Linked DNA regions of Homo sapiens: regions 2 and 3 are each linked to region 1. The links come from fine-mapping of genetic effects on plasma protein levels. Region 1 holds a variant in brackets. A gene starts in each other region. All regions are shown on their forward strands.

What was found. PIP is the chance, under the fine-mapping model, that this variant and not a neighbour inherited with it causes the effect. The UK Biobank Pharma Proteomics Project read protein levels with antibody pairs (Olink). The fine-mapping took linkage between variants from a reference panel, not from the people measured, so its PIPs are less certain.
Region 2: it holds the start of PYDC1, and the variant in region 1 is fine-mapped to the plasma level of the PYDC1 protein (UK Biobank, PIP above 0.99).
Region 3: it holds the start of WFDC12, and the variant in region 1 is fine-mapped to the plasma level of the WFDC12 protein (UK Biobank, PIP above 0.99).

What each region holds. Positions count from the first base shown.
Region 1 is chr1:152,301,292-152,309,469 of GRCh38, forward strand. It overlaps FLG (filaggrin), which reads right to left. Exons shown (of 3, transcript NM_002016.2): 3 at 874-8,178. The coding sequence ends at 1,409. The region is part of intron 3 of CCDST (cervical cancer associated DHX9 suppressive transcript); the gene reads left to right. Among named protein-coding and RNA genes, the nearest start is that of FLG, 20 kb to the right of the region's middle. The variant G/T (reference allele first, on the strand shown) is at 3,855.
Region 2 is chr16:31,212,115-31,220,292 of GRCh38, forward strand. PYDC1 (pyrin domain containing 1) reads right to left here and starts at 5,021. Exons shown (of 2, transcript NM_152901.4): 1 at 4,629-5,021; 2 at 3,848-4,043. The coding sequence starts at 4,914. The coding sequence ends at 4,645. It overlaps TRIM72 (tripartite motif containing 72), which reads left to right and starts at 2,005. Exons shown (of 7, transcript NM_001008274.4): 1 at 2,005-2,183; 2 at 2,618-3,014; 3 at 6,981-7,076; 4 at 7,175-7,405. The coding sequence starts at 2,625. RefSeq lists enhancers at 1,496-2,411, 2,412-3,326, 4,242-5,156.
Region 3 is chr20:45,121,094-45,129,271 of GRCh38, forward strand. It overlaps WFDC12 (WAP four-disulfide core domain 12), which reads right to left and starts at 3,372. Exons shown (of 3, transcript NM_080869.2): 1 at 3,276-3,372; 2 at 3,014-3,172; 3 at 2,332-2,850. The coding sequence starts at 3,354. The coding sequence ends at 2,753.

The sequences.
Region 1 (8,178 bases):
TGTTTGAGGCTAATTAGAAAAACGAGCTTGTTTGTTGCTTTTCATTCAGTCCCTGCACCTATTGGGTATTATTGTAACTTTGACAATCAGTGTCACTTTATCTTGGTTTACTCAAGTGTAAGTTCAATAAAGGCAGCTTTTTGGAAGTGCTTTTATAAAACCACTAAAAGCAGATTTGGAGACTTGAGATCTAAGTGCTACTTTGGTGTGGATTATTTGTGTAATAGACTCATCTGCAAAATGTGATCGCTGACCTACATATCACTTCTAGTCTGATATTATGGGAATGAAAATTTGGGTAGGATTCTTACAGAAGCATATTCCTTCTACTGGTAGAACTTCATTCATATTTTTACTATTCTTTTTTCAGCATTTTCATCTACTTGCTTAAATTACAAAGATACAAATATTTTCCTTCCAGGTCAGGAGGACACTTCTTTTTAATTCTTTTCCCTTTTTCAGGATATATCAGCACAACTTCTCTGCTCCAACTAGTCTACATTGCAAAGCATCTCCTAGTGTCTTTGGAAGAAGGATCTATGGTCAGTAATTCCTGTTTCGTGATCTGCCTTTGACATGGCTTAATCACCACCTAAGTTGATAATTCCATATTAATAATAGTGATATTCATGATTGAGCAGAGCATGTTTTTTTTTTTCCTGCATGTGATTGTGGGACAGTGATTATGTTGGAGAAAAATATAGGCCTTGATTAAATTTTGTCTTTCATTATTAATTACTTGTTATTTTGAATGTAATGTATCTGCTTTATGGTCATATAGCTTTCCAATGATATAGAAGACATCTAATTCTGGCCATGGGGAAGTATGTAATTTGTGTTTATGACAAATAAGAATACAAGAGACAAACAGTATTATATGATGAATAGTTTATTTTTAATTTAGATGCAGCTTACTATAATATTAATTATGTCCAAGATGATTTTTTGAATACAGAATACTAGAATTCCAATAGAAGGATAATAGAGAAAGATGTGCTAGCCCTGATGTTGATATAGCCACTTTGGTATACAGAACTGTTTTATATTTTTGGCTCCTTCGATATTTCTGAAAAAGATTAATTTAGAAATTTGGGGAGTGTCTAAAACTTAAACTTTCAAAAACATAAAACATTACTTGACCCAGAATCTCCTAAAATACTCCAGCTAGTTTTCTAAAGTTAGCTCTCCATGATATTGATTTCTTCCATTTAATATTTCTGAAATATAGCGTTTAAAGATCATTACACAATAAAAATAAGCTACCACCAAACTAATGAAATACTATAGCATATTTTAAACAGATTGACAGGAAAAGATAACTTCCCTGAAAGTATTATGAAGTTTCTTGATTGAAAGTGAACTTGCTTCATTCTTCTATTCTTGGATTAATTCCTTTGCCATTAATTTCTTACTCATAGTAATAGTATCTCTGTGACTGACTAAATCCCAGTTGTTTCGATATATCACTAGAATGGCCACATAAACCTGGGTCCTTATTAATATACGTTGCATAATACCTTGGATGATCTTTACCAAACGCACTTGCTTTACAGATATCAGATCTTTCCTTGAAAACAACAGGATTGGAATTGTAACTAACACTTCCGTGCTGAGAGTGTCTAAACCCGGATTCACCATAATCATAATCTGCACTACCATAGCTGCCATGTCTCCAAACTAAACCTGATTGACCTTTTTGCCTTTCAGTGCCCTCAGATTGATAATGATAAGAACTAGAACTGTGAGGACTGCCACGTGACTGTATTCCTGAGTGATACGCAGAATCTTGTGAAAGACTACTAAAGTGACCATGTTCCTTAGCGGTACTAGAGTCTGACTGTACAGGTGAAGACTGTACATGACTGGCTGTATCGCGGTGAGAGGATCCGGGGTGTCTGGAGCCATCTCTTGACTGCTCCCGAGAAGATCCATGATGGTTTCTGGAAGCAGACTCAGATCGCCTCTCAGAGTCCTCTGGGTATGCCTCACTGTCACTGTCCTGGCTAACACTGGATCCCTGGCGCCTGCTTCTCCTGGACCCCGCTGATTCACCCTGGCCGGACTGTGAGTGTCTAGAGCTGTCAGCCTGAGTGGAAGCTTCATGGTGACGCGACCCTGAGTGCCTGGAGCCGTCTCCTGACTGTTCCTCATTACGTGTTTCTCTGCTTGCACTTCTGGATCCTGACTGCCCATGGGAGGCATCAGACCTTCCCTGGGATGTGGTGTGGCTGTGATGGGACCCTGAGTGTCCAGACCTATCTACCGATTGCTCGTGGTAGGATCCCTGTCTTCCTCCTCTCCTTGACCCCGGGTGTCCACGAATGGTGTCCTGACCCTCTTGGGACGCTGAGTGCCTGGAGCTGTCTCGTGCCTGCTCGTGGCGGGATCCTTGTCTTCCTCCAGTACTGGGCCCAGCCCGTCCATGGGCAGACTCAGACTGTTCATGAGTGCTCACCTGGTAGAGGAAAGACCCTGAACGTCCAGACCTTCCTGCTGACCGGCCACGTGTGGACTCTTGGTGGCTCTGCTGATGGGGCCCAGCCTGTCCGTGGGCTGACACTGACTGTGTGTCTGAGTCTTCTGAATGTCCCTCACTGTCACTGGCCTGACTACCACTGGACCCTCGGTGTCCACTGTCTCTGACTGCAGATGAAGCTTGTCCGTGCCCAATGCCTGAGTGTCTGGAGCTGTCTGCTGACTGCTGGTGGTGGGATCCATGTCTCTCTCCTGCACTTGATCTTGCCTGTTCATGGGATGATGCAGCCTGTCCACCAGAGGAATTCTCTGCATGATGAGTGCCTGATTGTCTGGAGCTCTCTGCAGAGTGCCCGTGACCGGCTCTGTCTTCGTGATGGGACGTGGGGTGTCTGGAGCCATCTCTTGACTGCTCCTGAGCAGATCCACGATGGTTTCTGGAAGCAGACCCAGACCACCTCTCAGAGTCTTCTGAGTGTCCCTGACTGTCACTGTCCTGGCTAACACTGGATCCCTGGTTCCTGCTTGTCCTGGGCCCCGCTGATTGTCCCTGGCCGGACTGTGAGTGTCTAGAGCTGTCCGCCTGAGTGGAAGCTTCATGGTGATGCGACCATGAGTGCCTGGAGCCATCTCCTGATTGTTCGTCATTACGAGTTTGTCTGCTGGCACTTCTGGATCCTGACTGCCCACGGGAGGCATCAGACCTTCCCTGGGATGTGGTGTGGCTGTGATGGGACCCTGAGTGTCCAGACCTATCTACCGATTGCTCGTAGTGGGATCCCTGCCTTCCTCTTCTGCTTGACCCCGGGTGTCCACGAATGGTGTCCTGACCCTCTTGGGACGCTGAGTGCCTGGAGCTGTCTCGTGCCTGCTCGTGGTGGGATCCTTGTCTTCGTCCAGTGCTGGTCCTGGTCCGCCCATGGGCAGACTCAGACTGTTCATGAGTGCTCACCTGGTAGAGGAAAGACCCTGAACGTCCAGACCTTCCCCCTGACCGGTCACGTGCGGACTCTTGGTGGCTCTGCTGATGGGGCCCAGCCTGTCCATGGCCTGACACTGACTGTGTGTCTGACTCTTCTGAATGTCCCTCACTATCACTGGCCTGACTACCACTGGACCCCCAGTGTCTACTGTCTCTGACTGCAGATGAAGCTTGTCCACGCGGAATGCCTGAGTGTCTGGAGCTGTCTGCTGACTGCTGGTGGCGGGATCCGTGTCTCTCTCCTGGACTTGATCTTGCCTGTTCATGGGATGATGCAGCCTGTCCACCAGAGGAAGTCTCTGCGTGACGAGTGCCTGATTGTCTGGAGCGGTCTGCAGAGTGCCCGTGACCGGCTCTGTCTTCGTGATGGGACCTGGGGTGTCTGGAGCCGTGCCTT[G/T]ACTGCTCCTGAACAGATCCACGATGGTTTCTGGAAGCAGACCCAGACCACCTCTCAGAGTCTTCTGAATGTCCCTCACTGTCACTGTCCTGGCTCACACTGGATCCCTGGCGCCTGCTTCTCCTGGACCCCTCTGATTGTCCCTGGACTGCCTGTGAGTGTCTAGAGATGTCGGCATGAGTGGAAGCTTCATGGTGACGTGACACTGAGTGCCTGGAGCTGTCTCCTGATTGTTCCTCATTACGTGTTGTTCTGCTTGCACTTCTGGATCCTGACTGCCCACGGGAGGCATCAGACCTTCCCTGGGATGTGGTGTGGCTGTGATGGGACCCTGAGTGTCCAGAGCTATCTACCGAATGCTCGTGGTGGTACCCCTGCCTTCCTCCTCTGCTTGACCCCGGGTGTCCACGAATGGTGTCCTGACCGTATTGGGATGCTGAGTGCCTGGAGCTGTCTTGTGCCTGCTCATGGCGGGATCCTTGTCTTCCTCTAGTGCTGGGCCCCGTCCATCCATGGGAGGACTCAGACTGTTCATGAGTGCTCACCTGGTAGAGGAAAGATCCTGAATGTCCAGACGTTTCCCCTGACCGGCCACGTGCGGACTCTTGGTGGCTCTGCTGATGGGACCCAGCCTGTCCGTGGGCTGACACTGACTGTGTGTCTGAGTCTTCTGAATGTCCCTCATTGTCACTGGCCTGACTACCACTGTACCCTCGGTGTCCACTGTCTCTGACTGCAGATGAAGCTTGTCCGTGCCCAATGCCTGAGTGTCTGGAGCTGTCTGCTGACTGCTGGTGGTGGGATCCATGTCTTTCTCCTGCACTTGATCTTGCCTGTTCATGGGATGATGCAGCCTGTCCACCAGAGGAAGTCTGTGTGTGACGAGTGCCTGATTGTCTGGAGCTGTCTGCAGAGTGCCCATGACCAGCTCTGTCTTCTTGATGGGACCTGGGGTGTCTGGAGCCATCTCTTAGCTGCTCCTGAGCAGATCCATGATGGTTTCTGGAAGCAGACCCAGACCACCTCTCAGAGTCTTCTGAATGTCCCTCACTGTCACTGTCCTGGCTCACACTGGATCCCTGGCGCCTGCTTCTCCTGGACCCCTCTGATTGTCCCTGGACTGCCTGTGAGTGTCTAGAGATGTCGGCATGAGTGGAAGCTTCATGGTGACGCGACCCTGAGTGCCTGGAGCCGTCTCCTGATTGTTCCTCATTACGTGTTGTTCTGCTTGCACTTCTGGATCCTGACTGCCCACGGGAGGCATCAGACCTTCCCTGGGATGTGGTGTGGCTGTGATGGGACCCTGAGTGTCCAGAGCTATCTACCGAATGCTCGTGGTGGTACCCCTGCCTTCCTCCTCTGCTTGACCCCGGGTGTCCACGAATGGTGTCCTGACCGTCTTGGGATGCTGAGTGCCTGGAGCTGTCTTGTGCCTGCTCATGGCGGGATCCTTGTCTTCCTCTAGTGCTGGGCCCCGTCCATCCATGGGAGGACTCAGACTGTTCATGAGTGCTCACCTGGTAGAGGAAAGATCCTGAATGTCCAGACGTTTCCCCTGACCGGCCACGTGCGGACTCTTGGTGGCTCTGCTGATGGGACCCAGCCTGTCCGTGGGCTGACACTGACTGTGTGTCTGAGTCTTCTGAATGTCCCTCATTGTCACTGGCCTGACTACCACTGTACCCTCGGTGTCCACTGTCTCTGACTGCAGATGAAGCTTGTCCGTGCCCAATGCCTGAGTGTCTGGAGCTGTCTGCTGACTGCTGGTGGTGGGATCCATGTCTTTCTCCTGCACTTGATCTTGCCTGTTCATGGGATGATGCAGCCTGTCCACCAGAGGAAGTCTGTGTGTGACGAGTGCCTGATTGTCTGGAGCTGTCTGCAGAGTGCCCATGACCAGCTCTGTCTTCTTGATGGGACCTGGGGTGTCTGGAGCCATCTCTTAGCTGCTCCTGAGCAGATCCATGATGGTTTCTGGAAGCAGACCCAGACCACCTCTCAGAGTCTTCTGAGTGTCCCTGACTGTCACTGTCCTGGCTAAAACTGGATCCCCAGTTCCTGCTTGTCCTGGGCCCCTCTGATTGTCCCTGGCCCACCTGCGAGTGTCCAGAGCTGTCGGCCCGAGAGGAAGCTTCATGGTGACGCGACCCTGAGTGCCTGGAGCCGTCTCCTGATTGTTCATCGTTACGAGTTTGTCTGCTTGCACTTCTGGATCCTGAGTGCCCATGGGAGGCATCAGACCTTCCCTGGGATGTGGTGTGGCTGTGATGAGACCCTGAGTGTCCAGATCTATCTACCAATTGCTCGTAGTGGGATCCCTGCCTTCCTCCACTGCTTGACCCCGGGTGTCCATGAATGGTGTCCTGACCCTCTTGGGACGTTGAGTGCCTGGAGCTGTCTCGTGCCTGCTTGTGGTGGGATCCTTGTCTTCCTCCAGTGCTGGTCCCGGTCCGTCCATGGGCGGACTCAGACTGTTCATGAGTGCTCACCTGGTAGAGGAAAGACCCTGAACGTCCAGACCTTCCTGCTGACCGGCCACGTGTGGACTCTTGGTGGCTCTGCTGATGGGGCCCAGCCTGTCCGTGGGCTGACACTGACTGTGTGTCTGAGTCTTCTGAATGTCCCTCACTGTCACTGGCCTGACTACCACTGGACCCTCGGTGTCCACTGTCTCTGACTGCAGATGAAGCTTGTCCGTGCCCAATGCCTGAGTGTCTGGAGCTGTCTGCTGACTGCTGGTGGTGGGATCCGTGTCTCTCTCCTGCACTTGATCTTGCCTGTTCATGGGATGATGCAGCCTGTCCACCAGAGGAATTCTCTGCATGATGAGTGCCTGATTGTCTGGAGCTCTCTGCAGAGTGCCCATGACCGGCTCTGTCTTCGTGATGGGACCTGGGGTGTCTGGAGCCATCTCTTGACTGCTCCTGAGCAGATCCATGATGGTTTCTGGACGCAGACCCAGACCGCCTCTCAGAATCTTCTGAGTGTCCCTCACTGTCACTGTCCTGGCTAACACTGGATCCCCGGGGCCTGCTTGTCCTGGGCCCTGATGATTGTCCCTGGCCCACCAGTGAGTGTCTAGAGCTGTCGGCCCAAGAGGAAGCTTCATGATGATGCGACCCTGAGTGCCTAGAGCCATCTCCTGATTGTTCCTTGTCATATGTTTTTCTGCTTGCACTTCTGGATCCTGACTGCCCACGGGAGGCATCAGACCTTCCCTGGGATGTGGTGTGGCTGTGATGAGACCCTGAGTGTCCAGACCTATCTACCGATTGCTCTTGGTGGGACCCCTGTCTTCCTCCTCTGCTTGGCCCCGGGTGTCCACGAATGGTGTCCTGACCCTCTTGGGATGCTGAGTGCCTGGAGCTGTCTTGTGCCTGATCATAATGGGATCCTTGTCTTCCTCCAGTGCTGGGCGCAGACTGTCCATGGGTGGACTCAGACTGTTCATGAGTGCTCACCTGGTAGAGGAAAGACCCTGAACGTCCAGAGCTTTCCCCTGACTGGCCACGTGCGGACTCTTTGTGGCTCTGCTGATGGGGCCCAGCTTTTCCCTGTGCTGACACTGACTGTGTGTCTGAGTCTTCTGAATGTCCCTCACTGTCACTGGCCTGACTACCACTGTACCCTCGGTGTCCACTGTCTCTGACTGCAGATGAAGCTTGTCCATGCCCAATGCCTGAGTGTCTGGAGCTGTCTGCTGACTGGAGCTGGTGGTGGGATCCATGTCTTTCTCCTGCACTTGATCTTGCCTGTTCATGGGATGACGCAGCCTGTCCACGAGAGGAAGACTCTGTGTGACGAGTGCCTGATTGTCTGGAGCTGTCTGCAGAGTGCCCGTGACCGGCTCTGTCTTCGTGATGGGACCCAGGGTGTCTGGAGCCATCTCTTGACTGCTCCCAAGCAGATCCAAGATGGTTTCTGGAAGCAGACCCAGACCACCTCTCAGAGTCTTCTGAGTGTCCCTGACTGTCACTGTCCTGGCTAACACTGGATCCCTGGTTCCTGCTTGTCCTGGGCCCTGATGATTGTCCCTGGCCCACCTGCGAGTGTCTAGAGCTGTCGGCCCGAGAGGAAGCTTCATGGTGACGCGACCCTGAGTGCCTGGAGCCGTCTCCTGATTGTTTCTCATTACGTGTTTGTCTGCTGACACTTCTGGATCCTGACTGCCCACGGGAGACATCAGACCTTTCCTGGGACGTGGTGTGGCTGTGATGAGACCCTGAGTGTCCAGAACTATCTACCGATTGCTCATAGTGGGATCCCTGCCTTCCTCCTCTGCTTGACCCTGGGTGTCCACGAATGGTGTCCTGACCCTCTTGGG
Region 2 (8,178 bases), not on the chromosome of region 1:
CTGGGTTGGAGAGTGTTCCAGGCAGAGGGGACCGTAAGTGCAAAGTCCCTGATGCCGAGTGATCAATGGGGAAAGGGGTGATAAAAGAGTCAGAGTGATTAATGGGGTCATAGCAGATAGGGCTTTGTAAGCCACAGTTAGCACTTTGGTTTTTATTCTAGATGAAATTTCTTTCTTTTCTTTTTTTTAATATTTATTGTTTTTTTTGAGACGGAGTTTTGCTCTTGTTGCCCATGCTGGAGTGCAATGGCATGATCTTGGCTCACTGCAACCTCTGCTTCCCAGGTTCAAGCAATCCTCCCATCTCAGCCTCCCGAGCAGCTGGGACTACAGGTGTTCTTCACCATGCCCAGCTATTTTTTTTGAGTTGGAGTTTCGCTCTTGTCACCCAGGCTGGAGTCCAGTGGTGCGATCTCGGTTCACTGCAACCTCTGCCTCCCGGGTTCAAGCGATTCTCCTGCCTCAGCCTCCCAAGTAGCTGGGATTACAGGTACCTGCCACCACACCCGGCTGAGTTTTGTATGTTTCATAGAGACGAAGTTTAACCATGTTGGCCAGGCTGGTCTCAAACTCCTGACCTCAAGTGATCCACCCGCCTGGGCCCCCCAAAGTGCTGGGATTACAGGTGTGAGCCATTGTGCCTGGCCCTTGCCAACTTTTTAATGGGGTTGTTTTCTGCTTGTTGAAATGTTTAGTTTCTTTATATATTCTGGATAGTAGATCTTTGTTGGATGCATAGTTTGTGAATATTTTCTTCCATTCTTTTTTTTTGAGACGGAGTCTCACTCTGTACCCCAGGCTGGAGTGCAGTGGCGCGATCTCGGCTCACTGCAAGCTCCGTCTCCCGGGTTCACACCATTCTCCTGCCTCAGCCTCCTGAGTAGCTGGGATTACAGGTGCCCGCCACTGCGCCCGGCTAATTTTTTGTATTTTTAGTAGAGACGGGGTTTCACTGTGGTCTCGATCTCCTGACCTCATGATCCACCCGCCTTGGCCTCCCAAGAGTGCTGGGATTACAGGCGTGAGCCACCGCGCCTGGCCTTTCTTCCATTCTTCAGTTGTCTGTCTGTTGATAGTTGCTTTTGCTTTTGCTGTGCAGAAGCTCTTTAGTTTAATGAGGTCCCACTTAACAATTTTTGTTTTTGTTGCTTTTGAGGACTTAGTCAAGAATTCTTTACCAAGGCTGATATCCAGAATAGTATTTCTCCTGCGGTTTCTTCTATGATTTTTATGGTTTGAAGTCTTACATTTAAATCTTTAACCCATCTTGAGTTAATTTTTTTTATATGGTGAAAGGTAGGGGTCCAGTTTCATTCTCTTGCATAAGGCTAGCCAGTTATCCCAGCGCCACTTAAATGAAATTTCAGCTGAGATTTGAAAGATACACATACAGGAACCAGGGCAGAATTGAGTTCTGGGCTGCAGGCTCTGGATTCAGTTCATTCATTTGTTCAATGTCTCTCTATCATTCATTCTCCAAGCATTTAGAGAGGCCTACTTTGTCCCAGGCTTGTCCTGGGTGTACTAGAGAGACCAAAGTGGAAAAGACCCTCCCCTCAGCTCTGGAGGAAGAAAACATTTCAGGGTGGGGTGAGGTCCTGCCCTCCTGCAGGTGGGGTAATCCTGCCAGGGTGACCTTGGTCAGCCATAAACTTGGGGAATGAGTGGGTGACAGGCTGGGGAGGGGCTGCCAGCAAGGAGGAAGGAGCTGGAGAGTGTGGAGGTGGGAGTGGGGGGAGAAAGGGCAGACCCCCTTCAATTTTCTGTCTTTTCTGTGGTGTGAAAGGCCCTGGCTCCCCGCTGGCTCTGAGCTCTGACTCCAGGCAGGCCGGGGAGAGAACAGTGGATGGGCCAAGACAGGTGGCCCTGTCATGTGATGTGTGCCCAGGGACTACTCAGCCCTCACTTTTAGAACGGTTTCCGGAAGTGATGGGAGGGATTGGGCAGGGCAGCTAAATATAGTCCTGGGGCCATGGCTCAGTCTGGGAGGGTCTTCCGCTGAGCACTGTGTGCCCATCACGCGTGGTGTCCACTGCCAGCTGCCCCTGTGAGTCCCTGTCCTTGCTTGGAGCCTGCTGCTTGTCTCAGATCCTTGGACCCAGCCCTGACCCCAGTCCAGCTAAGCTCAACCCTGACCGGTCCTCCTTCGAGACTCTTTCAGCCTAAGATCTCCAACCAGACCTGTGAGTCCCGTGGGCTGGAGAGAGGGGGAGGGGAGGTCTGGGTATCTTGGTAAAGTGAGGGAGGGGAGTCTCGGAGTGGGGGCTCTGGAGAATTTGGGTCCGGGACTAAGGTCAGAGGCTGAGGCCTGGGGCTAAGGCGAGGGCAAGGACAGTGGGCTAGAATCTGGGCTTGTGTTCAGGAACTGGGGTTGACTGATAGGGCATATTTTTGGGGTTGGAGCTGAGAATTGCAGTGGAGGCTGCTTTTGGGCCTGAGACCGAGTTCCTCTTTCCCCTTGGCCGTCAGAGTCCCATCCAGTGTAGGATGTGAGGTCTTTACAGGCTGGGGCTTCTCCCTGCGGGGCGGCGGGCCCGGCCTGGGCTAGGGCTGGGCCAGGGCTGGGCCGGGAGCGCGGCGCCGCGGGGTCCCCCTAACCTACTCCTCCTCCACCCAGGCCCGCCATGTCGGCTGCGCCCGGCCTCCTGCACCAGGAGCTGTCCTGCCCGCTGTGCCTGCAGCTGTTCGACGCGCCCGTGACAGCCGAGTGCGGCCACAGTTTCTGCCGCGCCTGCCTAGGCCGCGTGGCCGGGGAGCCGGCGGCGGATGGCACCGTTCTCTGCCCCTGCTGCCAGGCCCCCACGCGGCCGCAGGCACTCAGCACCAACCTGCAGCTGGCGCGCCTGGTGGAGGGGCTGGCCCAGGTGCCGCAGGGCCACTGCGAGGAGCACCTGGACCCGCTGAGCATCTACTGCGAGCAGGACCGCGCGCTGGTGTGCGGAGTGTGCGCCTCACTCGGCTCGCACCGCGGTCATCGCCTCCTGCCTGCCGCCGAGGCCCACGCACGCCTCAAGGTGCGGGATCCGCGCGCATCGTGGTCGGAGGGGCTGTTCGGTGGCACGGGGCCGATGGGGAGGTCGCTGCAGTGATTTGGATTCTGAGTCTCTAGAGAGGCTCACGAGCTCCTGGAGTTGCGGGGGGCGGGGGCGGGGCGAAGCAGCCAGGAAAGAGGGTCTGAGGAGCTTAAGGCGGGGCTGGCAGAGGAAAGCCGCGCAGGGATGGAGCCTGGCGATAAGGGCGCTGAGCAAACGTAGGTTTCCCGGCCTTAGTCCCTAGAGGAAACTGGAGATGGGCGGGCGGAGCCCCAGGGCGGGTCTGATGGGCCGGGCGGAGCCAGGCGGAGCAGGGACTGACCAGCCCCTGCGGCCCACGCTCGCATTCCTGCACCCGGTGGGCCGTTCGGGCTGGCTCCCTGCTCGGCGCTGGCCCACTTTGGACTGGAGGCGCGGCGTTCGGGACCGAGCCAGGCGGCCGGGGCAGGGTTGTCCCCTTGTGCTCAGCGGAGGCCCACGCACCCCTGAAGCTGCGGAACTTGGGCTGGCCTGACGGTCCCCAGGCGGGGCCTCACCAGAAGGGAGACTGTAAGGGCTAGGCAGCCGGGATCTGCACTTATGTGTGCGGGCCCAGGGTGGCACCGAGAGCCCCGTCCAGGATGTTTTTCTGGGTGGAGCTGGAAGTCCCGAAAGCCTTGGGAGCCCACACGCAGTTGTGCGCGTCCCGAAGTACCCAGCAGAGACACCCAGACAGAGGCAAATAGAGACGAACGCACACTGGCTGGTGCGTGTCATCCGTGTGGCAAAAGCACACACGTATAGCTACCGGCGGGCACGTGTGCGCGCAGCCCCAGTAAAGTCTGCCATGAATATTTATTGGGCAGTGGAAGAATAAATGACAGGTGCAGGGGCTGGAGGAGGCGGGGTCTGGAGGCACGGAGGCGTCCTTGGTCCCCGAGGTGGAGACACTGCTGTTGTCTTACGCGACTGGTGCGCGCGTGGGGCTGGCTTCACAGGCGTTGCATTACTCCTTTTGCCTTGACCCGCCTCCTAGAAGGGGTAGACCACCGTCCTTTCGTTGGTATTCGAGGCCCCCAGACTTCCCAGGGACCCAGCCTCTCAGTCCTGCCTGGCCCAGTTCAGCCCAGTCCTAGCTGGTGGTCTCCTAGCTCAGGGCAGGAGCCTCCTCCCGGGACCCCTCCCATCCCAGCACACCTGTGCTTAAGACCCCAACCTCAGGGCAACCCGCTCGGATCCCCTTCCATGCTGTGGAAGCTTTGTTCTTTTGCTCTTTGCAATAAATCTTGCTGCCGCTAAAAAAAAAACAAAAAACAAACAAACAAAAAAAACCCAACCTCGCCCAACCTTGCCCGTCTTTATCTGCGAAGAAAGCACAGAACCCATGAAACGGAACAGGGCCCAGGCAGCCCAGGAGCCTGGAAGGGGGCAGTGGGGCGAGATGCAGCCCACCAGGGTTCGCGGCAGCCCAGCCCTTCGCCCCCGGGAGGGGCTGGCCGGAGGTCTGAGGGAGGACCCCAGGAGGGACCCTGAAGGAGGGGAACAGGAAGGCTCTGGGCGGGACCTGACGCGTGGGTCCTTGGCGAGGAAGCGGGGTTGGGTCCCGAGATCACGTACCAGCTCAGAGTGGCCCTCACGCAGCCCGCTGCAGCCGTGCGGCCTCCTCCAACATGCGCATGTCGCGCAGCACGGCCACGACGAGCTCGGCTGCGTAGTCCTCGTAGTAGGAGGCGACCAGCTTGTCGGTGAGGTCCACGATATCTAGCTGCCCGAGCGCGCCCCGCGGGATGCGCTCAAAGCCCTCGCGCAGCGGCACCGTCCCCAGCTTCATCTTGAACTTCTTGAGCTCCTCCGGTGTCAGGTTCTCCAGCACCTTCAGGATGGCCTCGCGCTTCGTTCCCATGGCTCAGCCCTGCGCCTCTGAGCCTCCGAGGGCCTGGAGCCATCAGGTCCTACCTTTCCTGCAGCAGGTGGAGCTGCCGCCCCCGGGGATGTCCCGGGAAGGAGACTGATCTGGCAGCTCCTATTCAACCCTGTGGCTCCTGCTGGGAGGGGACTCTGCAAACACCGCCTAGAGGGTCCCCCAGTTTCCCCTGGGAGAGTGGGGGCGCCAAATTGTTGAGGTGGGGATTGCTGTTCCCAATCTGCAGAGGAGGAAACAGGTTGCAAGTCATTGAGGCAGGAATGGAACTGATTCCATGGTCAGGCACCTCCCAGCAAAGAAGTGGCTTTGTAGCCTGGCATGGTTGCTCATGCTTGTAGTGCCAGCTACTCGGGAGGCTGAAGCAAAAGGATTGCTTGAGCCTAGGAGTTCGAGTTGTGATTCTGCCACTGCACTCCAGCCTAGGCAATCCTGTCTCCAAAAAAAAAAAAAAAAAAAAAAAAAATGGCTTTGGCAGGAGTATTGGGAGCTCTCCTATATTTGCATATTTGCATTTGAGGTCTTGGGTAAGATCTAGACCACAGAATGGTTGGTCTGTGCAGGGGACATTTTTTTTTTTTTTTTTGAAATGCAGTCTTGCTCTGTCGCCCAGGCTAGAGTGCAGTGGCACATTCTTGGCTCACTGCAACCTCCGCCTCCCTGGTTCAAGTGATTCTCCTGCCTCAGCCTCCCGAGTAGCTGGGATTACAGGCACTTGCCACAGCGCCCAGGTAATTTTTGTATTTTTAGTAGAAATGGGGTTTCACTATCTTGGTCTGGCTGGCCTTGAACTCCTGACCTCGTGATCCACCCGCCCTGGCCTCCCAAAGTGCTGGGATTACAGGTGTGAGCCACCACGCCCGGCCAGCAGGGGACATTTTAATTAAATTTCCTGCCCCCTACTCCAAGCCCATGTGTGTACAGGCAGGCTGACTTGGTGGTCAGGCTGACAGGCTGACTGAGGCTGATGTTCTGCTTTTAAGTAAGAGAGGAAGCCCAGGAGTAGGGGTAGGTTGCCTTTCTTCTTTCATATATCCTTCATGTACCCCCTGAGGTCTGTTGTGTGCCAAGCTCTGTGCCTGCCTGTCTGGTGGGAGAGACCAAACCACACTGATGTTTGTCATCCTCGCAAAGACCTGTGCTATGGGGCTGACTGCTGAGCAGAGGGGATCAGGGAAGGCAAGGCCAGGGAGGGGTCAACAAAACAGACAAGGGGCTGGGGGTGTGGCGGTTCATGCCTGTAATCCCAGCATGCTGGGAGGCTGAGGTGGGAGGATTGCTTGAGGCCAGGAGTTGGAGACCAGTCTGGGCAATATAGTGAGATTGTCTCTACAAAAATATTTTAAAAAATCATGGCCAGGAGTGGTGGCTCATGTCTAATCCCAGCACTTCGGGAGGCTGACGTGGGTGGATCACCTGAGGTCAGAAGTTTGAGACCAGCCTGGCCAACATGGTGAAACCCTGTCTCTACTAAAAATACCAAAATTAGCCAGGCGTGGTGGTGCACCAAAATTAGTCCCAGCTACTTGGGAGGCTGAGGCAGGAGAATCGCTTGAACCCAGGAGGTGGAGGTTGCAGTGAGCTGAGATTGTGCCACTGCACTGCATCCTGGGTGACAGAGCGAGACTCCAACTCAAAAAAAAAAAAATCAGAAAATTTGCTGGGCACGGTGGTGTGTGCCTATAGTTCCAGCTACTTGGGAGACTGAAGTGAGAGGGTCAATTAAGCCTGGGAAGTTGAAGCTGTAGTTAACTGTGATCATGCCACTGCTCCAGCCAGGGCAACAGTGTGAGACCCTGTCTCAAAACAAAACACCAAAATAAATAAATAAAAAACCGCACCAAAATAGACAAGGGGCAGGGGAAGCATTCGGACCTCAGGAGTAGCACTGGCTGGGGCTGGGAGGCATGTAAGTGGGTTTGGGGATGGGAAGATGGCTGGAGGAGGAGCTGGCATTGAGGTTGAGCCACAGAGGGCAGGTTTAGGATGGGAGGTGTGGGTTTTGGGTGGGTGGCATCCCCATCACTTCTCCATGCCTCGACCCCCAGACACAGCTGCCACAGCAGAAACTGCAGCTGCAGGAGGCATGCATGCGCAAGGAGAAGAGTGTGGCTGTGCTGGAGCATCAGCTGGTGGAGGTGGAGGTGAGGACTTCACAGGGCCATGTCTGAGGGCTGGGGGCCAGGCTAGGGGTCTCCAGCCAAGAGTCTTTATCCCTTCAATCACTGCCCCATCCCTGCAGGAGACAGTGCGTCAGTTCCGGGGGGCCGTGGGGGAGCAGCTGGGCAAGATGCGGGTGTTCCTGGCTGCACTGGAGGGCTCCTTGGACCGCGAGGCAGAGCGTGTACGGGGTGAGGCAGGGGTCGCCTTGCGCCGGGAGCTGGGGAGCCTGAACTCTTACCTGGAGCAGCTGCGGCAGATGGAGAAGGTCCTGGAGGAGGTGGCGGACAAGCCGCAGACTGAGTTCCTCATGGTGAGCACTGGGTGACCCCCCTCCCTGCCTCAGCCCCCTGCTCAGGGCCCAGAGACCTCATCCCATTGTCAGATAGGCCCAGAGAGGGGCAGGGATAAGCCAGCAGCACACAGCCGGGAGGGGCAGGCCTCAGGACTGCTATATGGTTGTTTAGGTTGAGCACTGCATAAGGACATTGTATTAAGTGAGCACTATTCATATCATAGACATTGTAGGTTTATATATTTATTAGGACACTCTTATTTTTATTTTTTATTTTTTGAGATGGAGTCTTACTCTGTCACCCAGGCTGGAGTGCAGTGGCAGGATCTTGGCTCACTGCAAGCTCCGCCTCCTGGGTTCATGCTATTCTCCTGCCTCAGCCTCCCGAGTAGCTGGGACTACAGGCACCCGCCACCACGCCTGGCTAATTTTTTCTATTTTTCAGTAGAGACAGGGTTTCACCGTGTTAGCCAGGATGGTCTTGATCTCCTGACCTTGTGATCCACCTGCCTTAGCCTCCCAAAGTGCTGGGATTACAGGCGTGAGCCACCGCGCCTGGTCTTTTTTTTAAAGGCAGGGTCTCACTCTGTCACCCAGGCTGGAGTGCAGTGGCATGATCATAGCTCACTGCAGCCTTGTAGGCTCAAGCAATCCTCCAATCTCAGCCTCCCATAGCTGGGACTACAGGCGCTTACCTGGCTAGTTTTTGTATTTTTAGTAGAGATGGGGGTCTCATTATGTTGCCCAGACTGGTCTCAAATGCCTGGGCTCAAACAATCTGCCTGCCTTGG
Region 3 (8,178 bases), not on the chromosome of region 1:
GGCCTCTTCTTTCGATAAAAGACTGTTTCATCTACATTGAAAATCTGTTGTGTAGCGTAGCCACCTTCCTCAATTATCTTGTGTAGATCTTCTGGAGAACTTGCTGCAGCTTCTCCATCAGCACTTGCTGCTTTACTTTACACTTTTATGTTATGGAGATGGCTTCTTTCCTTAAATCTTGTGAACCGACCTCTGCTATCTTCAAACTTTTCTTACGCAGCTTCCTCACCTCTCAGCTTTCATAGAATTGAAAAAAGTTAGGGCCTTGCTCTGGATTAGGCTTTGGCTAAGGGGATGCTGTGGCTGTTTTGATTTTTTTATCCAAACCACTAACATTTTCTCCATATTAACAATAAGTCTGTTTCACTTACCATTTGTGTGTTTGCTGGAGTAGCTGTTTTAATTGCCTTCAATAACTTTTCCTTTGCATTCATAACTTGGCTAACTGGTAAAAGAGGCCTAGCTTTGGACCTTTCTTGGTTTTCAAACATGCCTTCCTCACTAAGGTTAATCATTTCTAGCTTTTTTTGATTTAAAGTGAGAGACATGACTCTTCTTTTCACTTAAACACTTAAAGGCCACTGTAAGATGATTAATTGGCCTCATTTCAGCATTGTTGTGTTCCAAGGGAGAGAAACAGAGAATGGCCGGTTGGGGGAGAAATCAGAACATATGTGACATTTATCGATCAAATTCACTGTCTTATGTGGGCACAGTTTATGGCACCCTGAGACAATTAGGAAAGTATCATCAAAGATCACTGATCACAGACCAACATAACAGATGTAATGATAATGAAAAAAATTGAAATATTGTGAATATTACCAAAATGTGACACAAAGACACATAGTGAGCACATGCTATAGGAAACATGCAGCCAATGTACTTGCTTGGTGCAGGGTTGCCACAAACCTTCAATTTGTAAAAAATGCAATGACTGCAAAGCACAATAAAACAAGGTATGCTTGTATTGTGGCTGTAATTGTTGTAGCTCCATAATATGTTTTAGTGACTGGTGGTATCCATTACCCTTCATTAGTCTACATTTTCAATTTTCCAGGTTACAAGTATTTTATTGTTCCATGTGAACCTAATGATCATTTTGTTAAGTTGCAAAAACAAACCCTTGTTTTTATCATAAAATGTTTTCAAAAATGCACAAAAGAACAGCAAATACTTTTATGGAGCCTACATACCCATCATCCAGATTCAACAATGAACCATTTTACAAGAATTCCTTCATGCATATCCCCACCCCTTTTTTGGCTGAAGTATTTTAAAGTAAATCCAACCGATCTTATACTTTACCTTTAAATACTTCAGTGTGCATCTCTAAAAACTAAGGACACTTTCTCACATAATGACAATCCTACTGTTACACCTAAGAAAATTAACTGCAGTTTCTTAACATCATCTAATATTCTATTTGCATCTTGTTTTTCTTATTGTCTCAAAAGTGACTCTATGGTTGTTGGTGCACATATTGCATTGGCTGTAATGTATCTGAAGTTTCTTTTAATCTAGAACAATCTCTCCAACTCTTTTTTATTCTCCTTTCCTCCCTCCTTCTTCTTCTTCATGCTATTGACTTGTTGAACAAAACAGACAAATTGTTCTTTAGAATGTCCCATGTTGCTTCCCTGTGATGTCTTTCATCTTCTTTGTCCTTCACATTTCCCATAGATGAATGCTAGCTGTAGAGGCTTGGTGAGGTTCATGCTCAACTGTCTTGGCAGGAGCCCTTCTTGAATGATGCTGTGTGTTTTGTGTTGCATCACCTCAGGAGGAACGGAGGTCCGCTTTACCCATTTTTAGCATTGTGGAGACAGATTAATGTGTTTTCGGTGTGTACCTGAATCCTCAAGTTGTAAACTTGTGTTTTCCCTCTTACAAACTGTAAATATACCACAGGGTGATGAAATGGCACCCTGTAAATATTCAGAAGCCATGGATAATCATTGCCAGAATCAATTATTTCATTAGGGTTTGCAAAACCCAGTGGGTTTTAATTTTAATTATATTTCAGGTATAAATTATGCTGACCAAGGTGAACACTTTGAGGAGGCTTCCTGCTTGGGGAAGAGCATATCTTTTAAAAAACATTTATTTATTTATTCTGTAGAAAAGTTTAGTCTATTTATCCAGATCTTTTAAAATGTCATTTAATAAAGTTTTAGGGTTTCCTTTCAGAAAATTTCTGTACATCTCTAGATTTATTTGTAGGTATTTTATATTTTATTCACTTTGATAATGTTGAATAGGATTTTTTTTTTTTACTATTAGGTTGTCTTAGCAGGTTTGGGCTGCTATAACAAATTACCATAGACTGGGTGGATTATAAACAGCAAATATTTATTTCTTACAGTTCTAGAGGCTGGGAAGTCCAAGATCAAGGCACCAGCAGATTCAGCATCTGGTGAGGACCAGTTTCTCTTCTCTGACAGTGCCTTCTAGCTGTGATCACACATTGCAGAAGGGCAAGGCAGCTCTTTGGGGTCTCTTATAAGGGCACTGGTTTCATTCATGAGGGGTCCATTCATGAGCATTAGGGAGGAGCACCAGGTAGAGAGGGAAAGTACCGTCCCTGGGGTCTGGACTTTTTGTGACTCTTCCCTCTTTTTGGGGAAAAGGACTTCAAGCTCAGGTTTTCTTTGGTGGGGTTGGGTATTGCTTCTTCCATATTCCAAGTCTCAGGACCCTCAGGGGCAGGTGCCAAGTGAGAGTGACCCCCAGAGGTAGAAAGGACCCAGCATCATTTCTGAGGACACCTGGTAGAGGAGGAGCCTGGACACTTGGCCTCCCATCCTGGCTCAGGGTATGGCCTTGACACATCTTCATCCTTGTTTCCTCCTTTGGACAATGGAGATGTTCAGACTAGGTGGTCTCTGAGGGCCCTGCCAGCTTTAGCCATCCCTCCCCACACCAGCTAAAGGGACTAATTCCTCCGAACTTTCATGGGTCAGATAGAGGCAGGGAAGGGACAGCCCCAGCCCTGGGAGGCAGGTCTCCTTACCTTCTTCCAGTTCCTTCACAGGAATCACACACTTGAAGCCACAGTGCAGGTAACAACACTTCCTTTCCCCCAGACAGTCCTGGTCTGTGTGACACTGGGGAGGATCGGACTTGAAGCAGCGTACGTTGTCAGCTGGGCAAACCCCTGCTTTCTCTATACCTAGTGGAGGAAGCCACAAGGTGATATGAGAACTCCAGCCCCAGAGGGCCCCTCAGGACCTCTCCCCAGCCCAGCCCCACCCAGCTCCACCATGTCTGCTCACCCTCTTTAACTCCTTCCACAGCCACCAGGGTCACAAGAACGAGAGACACCATGAGGACCAAGAAGCTGCTGGACCCCATGTTGCCAGGCAGGTGCTTGGCTGGGAGCTGGGCTGAGCCTGGCTTTATAGTGTTCCTGCTGGGCATGCCAGTGGGTGGAGCTGAAGGCTCAAAATGGCAAGGGAGGCTGCACTTCCCAGCTCTATTTGGAAATGGCCCCTTCTGAGGAGGGACTTGGGGCTTTCCCTAAGGCTCTGCACTGGAATAGATGAAGAAATCCAAGAGCGACCCTCGTTCTTCACACGAGGAGAAGAAATGGACACGTGATTGACCATTAGGCGCCACCAGGGCCAAACTATCTTATGGAAGGAGGAAAAGAAGCACAGAAAGGGCATGAAATTACTCAAGTTCACACACGAGGCAGTGGCAGGGCCAGACTTCCTCAACTCCACCGTGTTCTCTATCAGTCCCTCTTCATGCCTGATTCACCTGGGACCAAAATCTTCCCTCCTTCCTGTGCTGCCCCGGACTTGTTCTCAGTTCTCACCTCACCCCAAGGAAGAATCTGAATGGCAGTGCTTAAAATGTCTGTCCTGAACATTCACTCTCAGCCTTGCGCTCCAGCACCGTGTGCTCCTGCCCCCCGCCAATCTCATGTGGCCTGGAGGAAAGCAGATTTTGGACCTGTCACCAGCTGTGTGACTTTGAAAGCAGCTTCACCTTTCTAAGCCTCCGTTTCCTCATTCATACAATGAGCATAATAATTATACTGTATCATCTTCATAGGATTTGTTTTCCCTCCTCTGCCCCTGCATCCCCCAAATTCCTGGATTTGGAAGAAGACATGGACGTGTGTGCGTGTGTGTGTGTGTGTGTGTGTGTGTGTGTGTGTGACCAGGCTTTTGGGGTCCTTTCTTTGAATGAGTACTAAAGGGAGGAAAATCCTTCCTGTTGGAAAAGTTGCAGATATAAGCCCAGAAACTCCAGAAATTTGGTCCTGGCCCTGGTGAGAGAGAAATTCTGAGAAGATAAATCTAAGATGCTGATAAAAAGAGATGAGAGATGGACAGGGAGTAATTTAGAGGATATCTAGTCCTTCACTAAACTTTTTCCTGAGATCAGCCCCACTCATACCCAGGGTTATGTTACCACCCAATACATTCACCTTTCTGCCTAAGCTGGTCTGAATTGGATTTCTGTCATTTACTAACAGGACCCCTGAGTAATGCAAAGATTTGGGTTTGGGGTGTTCCACATCCTGAAGTGTGGAAGGGACTGAGTTGGGGTTAAGTGGAGGCAGGGAGGATACCTCCATTCCTGGAAGTGAGCCTACTCCTTATTAGGTGGTGAATCTTTGGTTACAATCTCACCAGTCATATCACTGGACTCAGATCATTTGGATACCAGGGATGGAATCTGGGAAGTTCATAAACAAATACTAGAATGTTGGAATGTATTGGCTATTTCCTCCTCCACCTTTTTATTATGAACTTTTTAAACATACAGAAAAATTGAAATAACAGAACAATGATACTTGTATACCTACAACTGGATTTAACAATTATTAATAGTTTGGGATATTTTAGAATACCTATAGCTACATTTGTTGAAATATTTGAAATGAAATTGAATACATTATGTTCCTATTTCCTAAATACATCAGCATGCAAATTCTAAGAATAAGGATATTCTTCAATATAATCACAAAGCCATTATCATATCTAAGATAATTAATAGTTTCTGCATGTCATCTCATAGCCAGTTCATATTTGTTTCTCCGGTTCTCCCCAAAATGTCATTTGTAATTGACTGTTGATGATACTTCTTTAAAAAAAGTATTGTAAAATAAATCCTACATATGAAAGAATGTAATCAACATTCTATACCTTTTGAAAAAGAATAATAAACACCTATGAACCTATCAATTTAGAATAGGACATTACCATCCCTACTTCAGAGGTAACCACTATCTTGAACTTTCTGTTAATCATCCTCATGTTTTCCTTTAAAGTTTTGCTCTCTTGCTATGGCTTGCTTAGTGATACGTGTTGTTTAATTTCGTGTAAGCGTAATTATGGCCTAAGTATTCTTTTGTATTTTGCATGCTTTGCTCAACACCGTGTTTTTTTAAAAAATTGTGGTAAGAAATATATACTATAAGACATGACCTCTTAACATATTTTTAAGTGCATACTAACAGTATTGTTAATTGTGGGCACAGTGTCATACAGTAGGTCTCTAGAACTTTTTCATCTTGCATGACTGAAACCCACTGAATAGCAACTCCCTATTCCCCCCACCCCCAGACCCTTGGAACCACCATTCTGTTTTCTGCTTCTATAAGTGACTACTTTAGACACTTCATAAAAGTGGAATTATGCCATATTTGTCCTTTTGTGACTGGCTTATTTTGCTTAGCATAATGTCCTTGAGGTTCACCCATGTTGTAGCATGAGATAGACTTTTCTTCTTTTTTATGGCTGAATAATATTCCATGGTATGCATATATATGTACATGTATATAATCTTTTTCCTTCCCTCATTTATCTGTCAATGGGTCAATGCACATTTAGGTTTCCATTTCTTGGCTATTGTGAATATTGCAGCAATGAACTTGCAGGTGCAAATATCTCTTTGGGATCCTGATTTAAATTCTTTTGGATAAATACCCAGAAGGGGGATTGCTGGATCATGTGATAGCTCTATTTTTAATTTTTTGAAGAACTTCCATACTGTTTTCCGTAGTGGCTATACTCCTTTAAATTCTCACTGACAGTGCACAAGGGTTCCAAATTCTCCACATTCTCACCGGTACTTGTTTTCTTTTTCTTTTCTTTTTAAAATAAAAGCCATCCTAACAGGTATGAGGTGATCTTATGGTTTGATTTTCATTTTCCTGATGATTAGACATGTTGAGTATCTTTTCACATACCTGTTGGCCATTTGTATATCTTCTTTGGAGAAATGTCTGTTTAAGTCTTATTCACTTTTAATTGGGTCTTTATATTTATATGTGTGTGTATATATATATATATATGCATATGTACACACACATATATATAATGAAAAAGAAAAGAAATAAGTATTAGAATGGGAGACGAGAAAAGCCATTGTTTGCAAATGATGCAATAATAAAAACACAAAAGAAACTACAGATACATCATGAGTTAGACAATTTTTCAAGATTAGCTGACACAAAAATCAATATATAAAAGTCAGCTGCTTTCTATACACTAGAAATATTGGTTAGAAAAATGTAATACGTTAAAAGCAATAACATGTAAAATATTTAGTAATAAAGGCAACCTGTGAGATGGGAAAAATATTTGCAAACTACCTACCAGATAAGGGGTTAATTTTCAAAATATATAAAGAACTGCAACTCAATAGCAAAAATATGTTTACATATATATATACATATATACATAGCAAAAATATGTTTATATATGTATATATATAAATACATTTAGGCTTACATTTAGGTTTCCTAGAAACCTAGACTGTCTAGGAAGCAAGCCCCATAAGGAACTTCTCATATTCATATTATAAGAAGGTAAAATTGCAGGGGACAATGTTCCTGTTTTGTAGTAGTAAACTACCTTCTCAAAAGGTGGTTATTTTGTCCCCAGGGGACTTTGGCAATGTCTGGAGACATATTTGATTGTCACAACTGGGACAGATGTGCTTCTCACATCCAGTGTCTAGAGGCTGAGGTTGCTGCTAAATATCTAACAATGCACAAGACAGCTTTTCACAACAAACAATGATCTGTCTCCAAGTGCCAATAGTATTGATGTTGAGAAACGCTGCTGTCCTGCCTCACTGACTAATAGCTGTGCATGGCCTCAGAACACCTCAATGTAGGCTGAAGCGAGTAATGATGGGAGTGTCTGCTGGGAGTATCCCATGCTTAGGAGTGCTGATCCTTGGCTCACTGGTTTCACCCAGTAAAGGCATTCCTTAGCCCATGCCATGTGACCTTGTGGAATTCATCCCATGTTCTGCTGAATCAGGTTAATAAAGTTCCCTTTTAATTCTAGTTAGCTAAGAGTTTTTCTCATGAAAGGATGTTGAATTTTTATCAAATGCCTTTTCTTCATCAATTGAAATAAATATATGGATTGTCTCTTCAATCTGTTATTTTGTGAATTACATTAACCAGATTTCACATTCATTGTCTTTTTTGGGCATCATTTATTTATGTGCTTCAAGAAAGTGGAAAGCCTTGAACCAAAATGGCGGAGTCTAAGACAGGGAATGAAAGGGAAGATATATTTCTCATAAACGTGGAATATATATTCCTGAAAATCATTAGGTTACAGAGTTTTGCTCACTACAAATAATAGGGCTTCTGGAAAAAATAGAGTTGAAGTAGAACATTCAATATTTGTGCAGTCTCATAAGTAATACATCAAACAAACAGAACCCACACCCAATAAAAACATGACCACAGTGTTAAACATCTTCAGTTCCTAATAAAGAAATTATGTAGTAAATGTAGCACTTTACTTTGACAAAAGATGGGGAGTTTGCTTGGTAAGTGGGTATGGTGAAATACTGTGGCTTTTGAGGTATGTACAAAAGGTGGAATGAAGGACATCATCATTCTTGGGACTAAATGTTGTTATACTGGAGGGTCATTGTCGTCAATCTTTTACTTCTGTACTGGCTTAAAACAGCAATCCGCTTCGTTGATTTGCCAGTTCCTCCCTTTTGTAAGGAAGCTGTATAACTCTAAATGAAACTGGATAACTGCAAAGTTCTATGCTGATGCTCTTGACATTAAAATCTTGATCTTTGGCTGGGCGTGGTGGCTCACGCCTGTACTCCCAGAACTTTGGGAGGCCAAGCCGGGCGGATCACTTGAGGTCAGGAGTTCAAGACAAGCCAGCCAACATGGTGAAA